Linked DNA regions of Homo sapiens: region 1 is linked to region 2. The links come from fine-mapping of genetic effects on gene expression. Tissue or cell type: tibial artery. Region 2 holds a variant in brackets; the other region holds the start of a gene. All regions are shown on one strand. Distances are between the middles of the regions.

What was found. PIP is the estimated chance that this variant, and not a neighbour inherited with it, causes the effect.
Region 1: MTX3 starts here. The variant in region 2 is fine-mapped to the expression of MTX3 in tibial artery (GTEx, PIP above 0.99).

The regions. Positions count from the first base shown.
Region 1 is chr5:79,987,890-79,996,075 of GRCh38, forward strand. It overlaps MTX3 (metaxin 3), which reads right to left and starts at 3,373. Exons shown (of 9, transcript NM_001363818.2): 1 at 3,269-3,373; 2 at 2,705-2,774; 3 at 2,271-2,347; 4 at 1,263-1,355; 5 at 573-755; 6 at 350-426. The coding sequence starts at 3,349. It also overlaps a transcript of THBS4 not described here. RefSeq lists an enhancer at 2,871-3,040.
Region 2 is chr5:79,963,514-79,971,699 of GRCh38, forward strand. LINC01455 (long intergenic non-protein coding RNA 1455) reads left to right here. Exons shown (of 3, transcript NR_131226.1): 3 at 4,074-4,113. All of the region lies in intron 2 of LOC105379048 (a long non-coding RNA gene), which reads left to right. Among named protein-coding and RNA genes, the nearest start is that of MTX3, 24 kb to the right of the region's middle. The variant G/A (reference allele first, on the strand shown) is at 4,324.

The DNA of each region.
Region 1 (8,186 bases), 24 kb after region 2:
ACTGCAACCTCCACCTCCCAGGTTCAAGCGATTCTCCTGCCTCAGCCTCCCAAGTAGCTGGGATTACAGGTGCCCACCACCACACGCAGCTAATTTTTTGTATTTTTAGTAGAGATGGGGTTTCGCCATGTTGGGCAGGTTGGTCTTGAACTTCTGGCCTCGGGTGATCTGCCCAACTCGGCCTCCCAAAGTGCTGTGATTACAGGTATGAGCCACCACACCGGCCTAAATCTTGTTTTTTTTAAGTAAAAAACTCATCTTTTGGGGAGATAAGAGGACTTGCTTTAAATAGCTGCTCACTGAATATATGTGCACAAAATACCAAAATGATTTTTAAGGGAATACTCACGTATCTCCAAAGAAAAACTGAGATGTTCCCAATCTGTTTGATAGAAGATTTAGGCACTCCTTGGCATCTCTGTATATCTAATAAGGATGAAATTATATCTCAAAAGTAGAAAAGATACTCTAAAACTACTTTTGAGGAAGGCATCTCTAGGTAAACTCAAGTCTGCATTTTATCTTGTCCTTTCTCTCTAGGGCCCTTGCTTGAAGAATAATCCATACTATACCTGTGCTTCCACTTCTCGGAGGTGGTAGAGGGGAGGCTGTCCTCTGGTCAGGAGAATCCTATTCAGTGCTCCCTTAGACATTCTTCCAGGCAGGATCAAACTCAAAGGAAAAGGAATTTGTGAAGCAAACCATGGCTTTGTCACAGTAAAGTAATTGTCACTCTCAACCCAGAATGTGTGAAGCTGCAAAAGAAGAGAAAAAACACTACAAGGATGTTCTTTTATTAAATGAAAGATCACTCAATCAACATGAGAGTTTTTCATAAATATCTTTATATGAAGTGTCTTCATACAAATTTTCCAGTTAGAATGACTCAGGATAAAACAAGATTATTTTAAATGTGTGAGTTTTGTTGACTGCTATCTTCCAAACACCCAGAACAAGGCCTGACACATAGCAGGTGTTCAATAAACATTTGTTGAATGAATGAATTACACCCAATTCTATACATGGAGCAAAAAGATCCATCTCCCACAAAGAATTTCCAACATGACATTTTATTTTACTTTGTTGTTTCACATACTAGTTGAATGCCTAACAGAATCCAGTTTCACAGTAATATGAAGGAATTAAGATTAACATATAAGTAAAATTTTCTCTTAAGACTTTTCTCATTGGTTTTTTTCTAAACAGACTATGTACATTTGCAACTAGGCTACTAAAATACTGTAATATTTAAGAACACTCACCACTGCAGGGAGAAGCTTCTCTTCGAGGAGAGCAATATAAGCCAATGTATCTGCCCCTTGTTTTGCTGAGAGTTCATAATCAGCATTATATTTCTATTAAAAAAAAATAAACCAAAGAAACTCAGAAGTCAAAGAGCAGCCCAAAGACAGTAAAACTAATCAAATCAGGATTCATATTTTTCCTTACAAATAGCAAACGTGGTATTAAAATGGGAGAAAGAGAAATACAAATCCAGTGAAACCTATTGCTTAATGCACATAAAGTTCTTAGCACAGCATCACATACACAATATGGTCAATAAATGTTACAATATTAACTACTATTATTTTCATGCTTGTTAATGACCTAGTTCAGTGCATGGCATGTAGTACAAACAAAGCAACTATTATTTTTAACAAGAAGGAAACAGTTCCAATTGGCTGTGTTTCTCCCCAAGACAAAAGAAAAAACCTTCCAATTTATAAAAGTTCAAAATGTTATTGACACAATTTTTTTAAGTACAGTATTGGCAAAACAAATAACTTATCCATTCATATAAATCTTTACATGTTTAAACATTTTGGATACATAATTCTCTACTGTTAAAACATTTAGATACATTATTCCATAAAACTGCTATTAAGAGCTTTTTAAAAATAATATAGTTGCTAGTTGGTGAGAGCTCAGGTGTCATGCCCAGCACAAAATGTGTACCAACTATGTGACAAAATACACAATCCTATCAATAAGTTTAATAGTGAAAATGGCTAATTAAATCTACTTACATACAAATTTCAATAAAATTCAAGCAAAGTTTATTAAAATATAAACTGACTACCTCTTCATATGACTTTCAAATCACAGAACTCATGCTTTAGAGCAGTGATTCTCAAATCTATTTTTACATCTTGTCCCAGGTATCTCCAATTGTCTAATGAGTTGGCAAAAAAAAATAAATAAATAAAATAAAGCCCAACATGCAGGGATCAACAATCTACCAATCTACTTCTTCAAAGTGAACCACCCACCTGTTTTCTTAAAAAGTTTAGTATTTTTGCTGGCTGAGAAACCATGTCGTCTTCAGTTGTCAAAATTGGTACATCGCCTATAATCAAAAAACAGTTTACATACAAGGACACAGTGTGATTTCCTCTGAGAGATTCCAATATCCTAAAAACTATAGCAGTTGCACATTTAGAGGGGAAAAAATGAGTAAGCTTGTCTTGGTTTTTTTGCTGTTTCACAAAGAGCGGTTCTAAAGAACATTTTCGTTTCTCATAATTTCCAGTGATTTCGCTTGCACTTTGAGGTATTACTCAGAATGATCAAACCATAAACAACACAGAGCCAAGGTCACGGTAAGAAACTAAATCCTCAATATTATAGCTATATACCTCACAGCTTTAAATGGAAGAAGAAAAAAAAGAGTGCAGAAAGGGGAGTGTAAAGGTTTACACTATACCTCTTGAACCTCTCCAGGTGTTATCTATCACATTGACTTTCAAGGGTGCACCAGAAAATTTGGCATAAGCCTGAAACAGAGTTTGCAATCAAACATTTTAGACCAAGTGCGTAATGCAAAGCTGCAGAGCAGCTTTACTTCACAGCCCCATCCCCCAAAGGCAGAAGGCGACTGATACTGAGGCCGCATCCCTCCCCGTGATCTCAAGTAGGGACGCGGGCGCCAGCCACCCGGCTTTCGAGGACTTTGCTCCCCAAAAGGTCCTGGGGATGCAGAGTAGGGAGGGCGCGCCCCTTGCTTCGGGGTTTCACTCCACCGCCCAGACAGCTTTGTGAGGCGGACAAAACTCGGAGCCAAGCGGAGAAGCCTTGATGTCGCCGCCGGCCTTCGGCGGGGGTATCGGCCAGGTTGGGACTCGTCGGTGGGAGGGAGCCCAGGGCAATGCAGCGTGCAGCGGCTCGGCCCTCCTGGACCCCGCAGCGCAGCGGGAAACTGGGGCAAGTCAGCCTGGCGCCTCCAGCCCCGCCCCTTCCTCCTGCGCCCTGGCCCGCGAGGCGGCCTCACCATCACCACCAGGGACTCGCTGTGAACCGATGGGAGTCCCCAGCCGCCTCCCCAGCAACTGAGTTCCAAGGGGGCCGCCATCTTGCGCGGGCCGACCTTTACTATCCCGGAAGTACTTTTCCTCCTAATTTCCGGCACGTGAAACGCGGGGGCGTGGCTAAGGGAGGGAAGGGTAATTTGGGGGCTCTTGAGAGATGAGAGAAACAACGACTGGAGGGATTAAGAAGAACTCTTAGGAGCAGCTTGGCCTAAAGGGTAAGAGTTGTGTGCCTTAAGTCAGACCCACCAGTAATTCTTCAAATATTAATATTTATTAGATCCCTAGAGTGTTCCAAACCCTTTGAACATTAAATCTGTGTGATGCCTAAATTAACCTGTTTGTAAAACAGGGATGACCCAGTATTTACAAGATTGTGGTATTTACAATGTCGGAGAGAAAGAACTTGGCACACAGGAGGCACTCAGTAATTGTTCAACCCCTTCTCCCATGTATGTGGCCTCTGCCTGCCTTTCCAGCCTCAACCTGTTCTCACCCTCATGTTCACTGGCACAACCCTGCTTAAAAGTTACAGTATTTCTGAACGTCAGGTAAATTGTGCCCACCTTCAGTGCTGGTCCTTCAATCTGGAATATCTTTCTTCCCTATGCAGCTGCTCCCTCAAAAATGAGCTTAACTCACCTTCCCTGTGATGTTTTTACAAAGTTAGGAGCTCTGGGTTCTTGTAGCCCCTTGTGCATATTTGAATTGTAGCTTCTCTCCCTAGCTACAGACCTTTTGCCTTTCACAGAAGAGGGCTAGCTTCATAGGTTTGGGACCTGTGCAGCCACACAAGGCTCTGTGCTTAAAAAGGCTCCTCATTTGGCTGATGCTCTTCCGTCACTGTCTTGAAATTCTTAAGTTTTGAACAAGGGGCTCTGCATTTTTATTTTGGACTGGGCCCCTCAAATCATGTAGCTCGTCATGTCTGTGGGCCTAATGAGCACAGACTAAATGTTTCTTGACGTTAAACCTGACAGTTTCTCAGAAAAACTATTAAAGAGGAAATTTTGGTCTTGGAAATGCTATGATCCAAACATATGACTGGGTCTCAGAGTTAGAACTTGGGTGCTGGGTCTTTTTTCTAGAAGGCACAGTAGTCTTTCTGGGACACCCTCGCAGTCATGCCTCTGAGTTCTTTCCTCTATTCCACTGAGATGGTCGGATCTTCTTAACTAAAACTCAAAAGAAACCTCTGCAACTTTTCGTAAAATTACTATTCAACAAATATTTGCTAGGCACTCCCTTACTGTTTACATAATCATTCAAATTACAGTGCCAGCCTGCTAAAGTCTTTTTTACATGTTTCAAAACCAAGAGTTCTAAGAAATGAAAAAGAGATATGTCAGAAATGAGAATTCATTAATAATAACTGTATAATTGGAAAATGCATAACATATGTACCATTAAAACTGTCGAAACATTTATTGAGCAGCTCCTATGTCTTAGACATCATAAGGTTCTGGAACAATACAGAAATATATAAAACATGAATTCTGTCCTCGGGAGTTTACAGTGCACAAAGGAGATATACACACACCAAGGTGTAACAAGTCAGATAATCACGAGTAGGGTTAGAAATATAAGCAAAATACTACAGAAACACAAAGGAGGGACAGTGCATCCTCTGTGTGATCAGTGGAGACTATCTGTTGAGTCTTCAGTATAAAGAAAGTAAAGTAATTCAACTTTCAGATTGTAATGGAACCTCCCTGTTTTGAGGGTTAGAAATGTCAAACCATAGACTGACAAAGGCAAGGCAGGGGGAAAGAAAATCCTAAGCCATAAAGCTGAGGGTCCATATACTACATTCAGGCATTTAAAACAATCATACAGAAAGAATGTGGATTTCCTGAGCCTTGTTTGTAGCAGGACTGAGAGGAGTGAATGAACATTCTTAGTGGACACATAACACAGTTACTCAGTTTGGCCTTCTTCCGTACTGCTGCTACTACATACAGTGATTTCATTTGCATTAAAGAGAAATTAAATCTCTTCCCTTAGTGTTGAATTGAGACAGAATAGCATGTCATTGCATCTGATGAAAGAATCCTTACACACAGGTTTATTAGTGCATAGATAATAGCAATCTTTTATTGCTGCAGTTCCTCTTGAGAGTCTGTATCTGTTAGATTGAATTTAAAAAACTCTAACATAGCTGATTGCACAAACAGGCTGAATACTGTTCCAGAGAACCACACAGAAAATTGAAGCCTTCAGAAATTATGCCTGGTATGGTTAGTTGGCTCCTGTGCCTTTTCCTGGCTGTTTTAGAGTATTGTTCAGAGTTCATCTAAATCATAACTTCAGATTCCTACCGGGAAGAATACTGTCTGCAAAACATCCATGTTTGTGTGGGATGGCCTGAATCACAGCTTTATAATGAGTATCCCAGACAGTGTTTTCCCCAAAAAAGAAATCTTATTTTTCAAAAGATGATCATTAAGAATGGTTTCATCTGGTGATAGTCATCTGAACTCAGGCAACCTGACCTTGGCATCCATACCCATCCTTCATGTGTTTCTTAACTTGGGAGCCACAGTGCAAGGTTTGTTAGGCTCTTTTTGTCTGGGTGATTAAGAATCTGGGAAATGGTGCTGTTGGGAAAGATGAAAGGTTTGTGACAAATGATGGTACAGTATATGGTCCCTTATGGGAAAATTAAATTGTAAAGTCTTAAATATCCCTTTGAACTTGAAGATTCTGTAATTTGTGTTCAGATATAAAATCCTTAAGGAGGGGAAAGAACAAACACTGAATAGAAAAAAGGAGAGCTGAGTTCTTGACTTGGCCTCTGATTAGCCATATGCGCTTGGGCCAATCATTTTACATTGATACCTCTGCTCATTCATTTATAAAGCAAAAGTTCTTTTATCTCTGAGATGCTATCATTTTATGTGTAATGAACATTTAATAATTTCTGACATTTATGGAGCAATTTCTACATGCCAGAAGTTGTTTCAAGTATCTAACATAACTTGCTTTATCTCCATAATGATTTCATGACACAGGTACCTTCCTAAGGTTAACTAACATCTTTGTGTCCCTCCTTGAAAATAGAAGAAAATATCAGTACCCATATAGCCAGTAGGTGGTAGAACCAAGATTTGAACCCAGGCAGTTTTGGCTTCAGAGTTTATACTCTTAACCACTGTGTCATACTGCCTCATGTAGCCTCCTGTGTAGTCCATTAAAAAGCCCAGTTTCACCCAAAGTGGAGATATCAATGCCATGATATTATTGTTATTATTTATGTAAATAATATTTGTTTAGTATTACACCATTAAACGAATTCATTAAGCAGCTTCTGTATGCCTAGCACACTGCAAGCCTGTCAGGGAATAAAAATTTATGTTCGCCTGTAATCCTAGCACTTTGGGAGGGAGGATCACTTGAACCCAGGAGTTCAAGACAAGCTTGGACAACATGATGAAACCTTGTCTCAACAGAAACACAAAAATTATAGCTGGGCATGATGGTGTGTGCCTATAGTCTCAGCTACTTGGGAGGCTGAGGCGGGAGGATGGCTTGAGCCCAGGAGGAGAAGATTGCAGTGAGCCGTGATTGTGCAAAAACTTATGTTCAAGCTTTTAGAGGCACAGTTGATGAAACAAGGCCCACATATTTGAACTAACTAGAGACTATTAGGAAGTACCATTTTGTCAAGAAGACAAGTCTAGTATGGTTTTAGACAAAGGCTTGAATGTACTGCAATGCTTGGCAAAGGCCTAATGAAAGAAGATGATAGCTGATCTCGAAGGGTGGGTACGTTGCATTTAGATTGGCACAGAGTAAGGCATTGCATATGGGCTGTGCTATATAAGTGAAGGCATAGAAACAGGACTGACTATGGCAAGGAATCTGAAGATGAGTAAACGAATGCTGGGTTTGGTTATAAGCTGGAGACTGCTCAGGGAGAGTATTGGTTGACTAACTTGAGAACCAGAATTGGAAGGCATGGGAATTTATAGTTTTGAGAAAGTAAAGACAAGTAAAAGTCCAAATACAATATTAGTGGATTTACATAGTCAAGGATGGGAGGTAGACAGCTATTGTTACATGGACATTATAAGAAGAAGCATTTTATAAACCCATAAACTATATTAAATAAAGTAAAAGTGTGGTGGAAAATGCTGCTGAATATTATTGGAGGAAGGTCACTTGGCACCCTTCCGCTGAGCATTTTTGATAGAGGAGGTTGTTAGAAATCCAGTGGCAAGGGATTACTGGAGAAAAGGGTATAAACGATAAGGACAGGTCTAAGAGCATGAGGAATATGACTGATAAAGGAAGAAGAGAAATGGGACAGGACTGAAAGACTCAAAGTTTTTGAAAGAGACGACATGGTGAATCTACACACATATGAGGACAAAATTGGCTATTATGAGTAAAAGTCTGAAGATGCTGGAGAGAAGAAGGATGGGATCCTAGAAATTGCCCTAAGAGTTGAGGCTGAGATCCGGAGCTTGAGCAGCGGGGCTGGCAGGCATTGAAAATGAGAGACATGCTCTCTTTCTGACACTGGAGGAAGTTTCAAGGGGAACTATGGGATGCTGAGTAGATAAATCAGTTACCTTCAAATTTCCCTATTACATTAGAAAAAAAATAAAAGTGCCTGAGAGAAAGAGATTGGGGCTTTAAAAAGACAGCTGGGCACAGTGGCTCACACCTGTAATCCCAGAATTTTGGGAGGCCAAGGCAGGCAGACCACTTGAGGATCACTTGAGGTCAGGAGTTCCAGACCAGCCTGGCCAACATGGTAAAACACAATCTCTACTAAAAAAAAAAAAAAATTAGCTGGATGTGGTGGCGCACACCTGTAATCCCAGCTACTCAGGAGGCTGAGGCAAGACAGTCGCTTGAACCCAGGTGGCAGAGGTT
Region 2 (8,186 bases):
TACACTTTCTTTTCCATTTCAATAATGATTCAACAAAACAGTTTTAAATGAAAAGCATTCGGTAAACATTGTTCAGTTTTTCCAGGACTTTAAGCTTCAGAGGGATGCCACAAAATCATCTTCAGAGAAGTTTATGGTGCTTGTAAGGCTGAGAAAACAAGAGTCCTTAAGAAAAGCTCTGATTAAACATTGTAGAGCATTGTATTTCCTGCCTTGTAATTGTGATAGATGGTATGGTTTTGTTTTTAAACAACACCTCATCTTTGAAATGACTCTGCTGGAAACCTAGCATTTTTTTTTTTTTTTCAGAATATTTCCACTGTGTATATTAAATTGACTAAACATTCAGAAGAAGGAGCACAAATCAGACCCAGGAGAGTCTGTTGCAAAGTGTAAGTAGGAGAGAGGAGATGTTACCAATACTGAAAATACACTAAAATTCTGATGAAAGTACCAGATTCAATCCCATGCAAGCCTCTTAGGAACACTCAAACTGTTGAAAATAAAATGGAAAAAAGCGATTACACACTGGCACCAGCATCTAATTGTTTAATGAACATTACATGGCCTGGATCCTATTACTAATGTTTCTCTTCTTTGACATATGTCCACTGATGAAGGAAAGTTCTTTTTGGGTTGCAAAGTGGCTTTCAGAATTTGGACGCTCTGAAAGATAACAAACAGGCAACATCTTTTACTTCTTGCTCACAAGTAAATTTCTGGCAGTTTTTGACAGGTCATAAACACACATGAAATGCTAAACGTAGTGGGTTGTTAGATGCTTTCCTTAAAGTTGAAAAACATTTTTAAAATAAGTTTCCTTATGTCTACTTTTTTCCACATTCTCAACTCTGACATTCAAATGCACTTCACGAACCGACACGTAATAACATTTGAAAACCAAATTTGGAAAACCTTCACGAATTCAGACTTCACTCTTAGAGAATTTTCAAAGCATTCTTGAGACAAGCAAATCGAGGCTGTGAATAAGATTACTGAGAATAATGCTTACTTAAGAGAAATATTCATGTTTGTTAGATATGCACAAGCAGTTAATTACATTTGGAGTTGTGCTTGTTTAGGTCCTTTTGTGAGAGCACTGACACTGTTTAGAACTTTCTAGAAAAGCTTTCATCCATTGGTTTCTGTGACTTCACTCTTCCTTGTATTTCCAATGGGCTCCCTGGACGCATCTCCTCAAGCTCTTTTGTGGGTTTTTCTTCCTCACCCAGCTACTTCAAAGGTGGAGTTACTTAGGGTTCCATCCATAAACCTCTTCTTTTCTCACTCCACAAACTCACCCAAAGGTTTGAATTAACTATATGCAGATAATGCTCATGTTTATGTCTCCAGCCTCAATCTCTTCCTTGAGCTCCCTCATGTGTATCCTGTCTTAGTGGGTGACTCCACTATCTATTGCTAGTCTAAGCCTTAAACCTGGAATTTATGCTTAATTCCTCTCTCCCTTCCCATCATCATCCTAAATATCACTTTAAACATCCACCCTGTCTCTTCCCACTGTTGTCAACTTATTCCTGCCATCATCCTTTCTTGTCCAAATTTCTATAGCAATCTTTTAACTGATCCATCTGCTTCTAAAACCTTTCTCCTGCTAAGACCACAGAAATTTTTCTAGAATGCAAATCTGAACGTGTCACTCCTCTGCTAAAAAAACTTGTTCAGGGCCGGGCATGATGGCTCATGCCTGTAATCTCAGCACTTTGGAAAGCTGAGACGGGTGGATCACCTGAGGTCAGGAGTTCGAGACCAGCCTGGCCAACATGGTGAAACCCCGTCTCTACTAAATATACAAAAAAAAAAAAAAAAAAAATTAGCCGGGCATGCTGGTGGGTGCCTGTAATCCCAGCCACTTGGGAGGCTAAGCAGGAGAATTGCTTGAACCCAGGAGGTGGAGGTTGCAGTGAGCCGAGATCGCGCCATTGCACTCCAACCTAGGCGACAGAGTGAGACTCTGTCTCAACAACAACAACAACAACAAATTGTTCAGGACTCTCATTGCCCTCAAGATAAAGCCCACACTTCGCTTAGGCTGACAAGGGCCTTCATGATGGAGACCACATTCCACCCTCAGCATAACTCTTGCACACCAGACTGAATGCACTGTTTGCATTTTCTGTTCCATCTGATTAGAATGCCATCCCCCTCACCTCCACTCTCCCCTGGATCTATAAAGCTTTCTTCCATCTAAGATATCACCTCCCCTGGGAAGCTTCTCATCCTTCCCAAGATTGAATAAGGGACCTCTCCTATATGCTTCTATAGTACTTACATCCTATATTACCTATATCACAGCACTCAACACTCTGAATTTCAGCAGCAGCTTTATTCATCAGTTTTCTCAGATGATTGTAAAAACCTTCAAGGTATCTTCCTCATCATATCTCCAATAATCAGCTCATTCTAGATTCTTGAAAAACATTTGACAGATAGATGAATGCAGTTACTTTAAAGATCTGTTTCTCAGTTTCCTGATTCTAAATTCTGAACAGGGAGAATCTAATTTGCCCAGCTTGGGTCAGTTTCCATCCCTGGTCCAATGAGCTGAGCTAGGGGTGTGAGAGTATGGATGGAATCTCTTAGAAAGGAGTGTGGGGTTAGAAGCAATGGGTGGCATGCATAACCAAATTATACAATGTTCTTCATTGAAACAATAAAACTGCATTGTAGTTTTTAAAAGTCATATGTTATATATTTTTCATTAATTCATGAGCCTCCTTTCATTAGTTCATTATAAAAAGGTATCACTGTACCTTCATTTTAATACATAAAATAAAAATTATACAGTCACTTTTTACTTATTATTAGGGACTCATTCATCCAACTGTTCACAAATATTACTAAGTACCTACTATGTGCGAAGCTCTGTGCTAGGGACTCGGTAGATAGCAGAAAATAAAATCAAATCCCTGCTGTCATGGTGCTTGCTTTAAAAAATGTAAAACACAGATGCAGCATTTTAAATTAGAAAACTTAATATGAAAGAAGACAATAGGATGTTCTGCGGAAAATAACTGGGGGGATGTGATTCAGTTATGAGAGCCAAGGAAGGATTCCCAATCGGGGGAAAAAATTACATCAAAGCTAAGATCTGGCTTCTCTGGGAAGAATGCCTGGGATTGGAGAGTTGCGGGAGGACAAGGACGGAACTGGAGATCCCTGTGGAGTTATTATGATACTTGCAGCAAAAGACTATGACGCCTATGACTGTTGATGAATTCAGGAGATTCTGGGAGCCAGAACTGATTGCACTTTGATTGTTTCTATGTAGGGTGAATTAAAGGTGCTAAGAATAACAGTTGGGGTAGAGGTTAAGCACATGAACTCTGAAGCTAGATTGTCTGAGTTTAAATCCCAGTTCCATTAGTAAGTTATGTGACCTTGGGCAAATTACTTAACCTCACTGTGCCTTGGTTTCCTCATCTAAAAAGTGGGTGATAATAATAGTAGCTACCTTGAAGATTTGTTATGAGGATTAAACAAGTTAACATGCATAAAACATTTCAAACATTGCCTGCATGTCGGTTTACTTACAAACTGAAAAAGAGGTAAGTTTCCATGCTTCTGGCTTGAGCAATGGAGCGATACAGGTGACATTTATTGAGATGGGAAAGACTAGCAGAAAAAGAGACTTTGATGGACTGAAGATCACAGTTTAGCCTTAGATACAGGCTTGAGATTGCTCAGACCTCTTGGACATCTCTCTTTGGGCAGGAGTCTGATCTCAGAAGAGATCCCTGGGCTGGAGATGTCAATCTGTAAGACTTCCAAATACAGGCAACATTTGAAGCCCAGGGATTGGAAAGGCAAGCAAGGAAGAGTGTGTAGAGTGAGCAAAGTGTGAATACAGGGCCAAAGACTGACCATGAGAGTTCCGAAAGCCAAGTGGAGAATGAGGGGCCAACTACTGGTTTATGTGCAGTGCTGTTATGCACATGCATTAGACAAGTGGAAATAGAAACATCTGGTATAATTTGAATATAAGGAATATTCAAACAAAGGACATCCTTGTATTTCTATTTTAATGGAGCTTAAAACTCTAATTTTCTGTTTAGCCCTGTTACATTGATTTTATGGCTTCTCCTATCCCTCATTGGAATCTCTGATCCAAAGATTTAAAAGAAAGTCTGGAGAATTTGGAGATATGAGTAGTTTCATGGCTGGATCTTCAATGGCGAAGACAGAAGGTGGGGCATAAACTAGAACCAGGTGATGAAATGTCTTATAAGCTGTCATAGGAGTTTAAACTTGATAACAGTAAGGAGCCATTCAAAGTGTTAAGCAACAGTGAAGCACGATTATTTC[G/A]TATTTGAGAAAGATCTTTGTTGAACAAGGTAGAAAATGCATTGAAAAGGAGCAAATCCAGAAGCTGAGAGGCCAATGGTGCATCTGTAACAGTAACCCAGGAAAGAAAAGGCAACACAAAGGCAAAGAAAAGACAAACCAGGACTGTGGGGGAGGCCAACGGTTCCAATTTAAGTAATGACCACAGCAAGAAACAGACAGGATGAGGTGATTGACTAGTTAGAGAAGGTAAGAGAGAGGATGACGCCATGGCCTCTGCTTTTGTTCAGACTATTCTGTGCCCTTAAAATATTACATTTTTCCTAATCCATCCTTATGCTCCATGCAGCACCCTCAATGTCTTCTGTAGGGATAACCCTTTAATTTTCAAATATGTTCTCATCCTGTCTCCTGATGAATGCATGCAGTCATTAATTAGCTCAAGTGGAAAATAAAGATGCGACTTACTTCATATGCACTCTAGGTCCCAGGCCTGGGTAGAAAAAAAAATCTATTACCTAAACCACAGAAGCTAAAATCCTCCACAAAGAAGAAAATACCCCAGTGATTGATTTGGTCTCCACATCACCTGGCTTAACTAAGTATAGAAGTATTAATATGCTAGACCCTATTTATTAAAATAATTTAGCTCATCATTGTGACAGAAAGCCCATGTTTCAAACAGCAATATTTTTGTAATAAATTAGAAGTCCCTCAACAAACCCTGTTAAACCCCATGTGGATTTCCGTTAATGGGGAAGATTTCCCAGTGACCTAGCTTAACACTGCTGCTGCACATTAATTTGCTTTCCAGCTATACATAAATAAATAAGTGGCTGCCTCCTTGATGTGAGCTGGAGGACCCAGGGGAAGGCATTTTTACCTCTAGGTATCTTCCCCAGACTTCTTATGCTGTTTATAATTATCATATTCATCATTTTTTTCTTCTCTCTCTTCCCAATTTCTTTCTTCCTAGTCTCTCTTGAACCTATTCCTATCAGACTTATGCCCCCACCATTCCATCAAAACTGCTTGTCAAGGTCACCAATGACCTCCATTTTGCTAAATCCAATGGTCAGGCATCAGTCCTCATTTAACATGATCCATCAATTGCATTCAGTGCAGCAAATCACCACCTCTTCCTTGACACACATTCTTCATTTGGCATCAAGAATAACACATTATTTCCATTTTTTTCCTACCTCATTGGGCTTAGCCTTCCTTGCTGGTGTTCTCCATGGTCTCTTAGTGTTCAGAATACCTCAGGGCTCAGTTCCTAGTCCTCTTCTCTATAACTTAAACCCTTGATCGTCTCATCCCGTCTCATGGTATTAAATAACACCTTTACCCTAACAACTCTTCAGTTAGTACCTCCTGGTCTCCAGCCTTACTCAGCATCTCCACTTGGATGTTCAATAGACATCTCAAACTCAATGTGTCAAATATGGAACTCCTCATCTCCCTTCAAAAACTGTTCTACTCATAGCCTTCCTTATCTCAGTTGATAGCAACTTGATTAAGCCAGTGCTCATGCCAAAAATCTTGAAGTCATCTTTCTCTCTTTCTCTCACAATCCACATCTAATCTTGTTGATAGTGTCTGCAAGGTACACCCAGAATCCATTCTCTTCCTACCTTTCCACTGCTACCATCCTGATCCACCAACTCTTGGCTCAAAGTCACTACAATATACTCCCAGCTTCTCTTCCTGCTTATACACCCTTGTCTAGCACCAGAACCATAGCTCAAGTAATCCTTCTTAAAAAGTAATCAGTGGCATCACTTCTTTACTCAAAAACTGCAATGACACAGGGTAAAAGCCAAAGCCTTAAAAATGCCTTCAAGCTCCTACCTGGTCTGCTCCCTCCCCTGAGTTTCAACCTCATCTCGTGGTCTCCCCTGCTCACTCTGCTCCTGACCACTGGCCTCCTTGCTGTTTCTGAGACATGCCAGACAAGCTCTATGTGTGCCCTCTGCCTTGAATGCTGTCGGATACTAGAGGCCAGCCCCACCCTTCTTTCATGGCTTTGTTCAAATGCCATCTTCCCAATGCCACTTATCCTGCCATATTTCATACTGTCACTTGCCCCAGCCCCAGTGGTCCCAGCCTCCTTGCCCTGCTTTACTTTTTTCTTTTTCCATAGCACATATCACTTCCTATTATGTGATGCAATCTGCTTATTTATTAGGTTCACTATCAACTGTCATCTCTGCTGGAGTGTAAGAATCACAAAGGCAGAGGTCTTTGTTTTGTTCACTGATGTATCCTGAACACCAAGAACAGTGCCTGGAACATAGGAGGCACTCAGTAGATGCTTATTGAATTAATGTTTTAGGCTTCAATCACAAGGGGCCCTAGTATAAGGCAAATATTATTGGACAGGTGATACATTCAGCTTCAGGTTTCCAATCTGAGCCATTAACATATCTTACAAGTTTGAACGAACTACAAATGAGATGTCTTTGATCCATTTCCTTTCTAGCTCACTCCTTCAACACATTTTTCATCCCAGTGCTCTGGTCCTCTCCTCAGGACAGGGAATGGATACAGTCAATAGTGTCTGTTCAGGGTTTATCCTCCCTAGAGTAATTTGGTCCTCTTTCTCCTTATTCCCATGAAATCTGAACTGTGATCCAATTTCTCAAGACCTTAAAACTAAAAAAAATGAGAACTAGTGACCCCATTTTAAGAAATATTGCAGATTGTAAATTAAGCCAATGCTGCTGTTAAACCAGATTTAGCTCATTGACATCTAGAGGAAATACAAACGATTGCCAGAACTTTATAGCAAGAGAGAAGGATACGGTATAGTGGGAAACCCAAGCAAAGGGCTGGATTGGGAGCTCTATGTTACTAGAGGCTAACATGAATGTCCCAGAGGAGCGAAAAAGAGGGACACAAATGGAAGGAACAGATCATGGGGCACACACCTTATTTTTGCCTAAGGTGGACAACTGGGCTAATTCACCAAAGGTTTTGTGAGCCCCCCATCGTGCTGCTGGCACCTAGGATAGCCGGGTGGAGGCTTCTCCAACAATTCTAAGAAATACCCATGGAATGAGAAATGCCCAGGCAGATATGTGGCAAGCGCTATCTCCCCTGGAGCTCTTCTGGAGACCCTGGGCCACTTCCACAATGCTTTCTACACTGAGAACACTCTACACTCTCACTCTACACTGAGAACACTCATTAGGATCAACACTGAGAACACTCATTAGGATCAACTAGAGGCAGGTTGAGTTTTTATTTCACTAAGTACCCAAGCTCTTGTGCATAATTAATCCTCAAAAAACTAATTTCTTTCCCAGCACTGAATTATCCTTGGTCAAAAAGAAATCAACATGATAAATACCAGGCACATAGTGGGCATTTGACATCCTTCTTCCCATGTCTCTCGTTTTCCTCTAGTACCCACCCTCCCAACCTCCTTTGAGATGACTATTTTCCATATTTGCTTCTTTCATGGCATATCTGTATTGCTTCGTATTTGGCCCCAGATGTCAGATTGGCTTGCATTACTCCAGGCTGAATCATTTGATTTCCTGTCCATGTTCCTAACCTTTCCAGATCCTCTTGTATCATTTCTCAGTCATTCCCGCTGTTTACAATACCTCTCAATTTAAAGCCATCTGCAAATCTCATTAACAAACCACTGACTCCTTCTCCCTCACGATCATAGGACATGTTGAATGAAACAAGACCTGACAGCAATCCTCTCCTCTCCATTTGAGGCACCATTTCTCTGGGTTACTTTAACTTATTATCATTTTTATATTATATTGTTATTGCACATGTACTCCCAGCCTAGGCATATCTAATATGTGAAAATCGGGATTCATCATTTTTTGAAATTAAGTTATTCACAGGCTGGGCGCGGTGGCTCA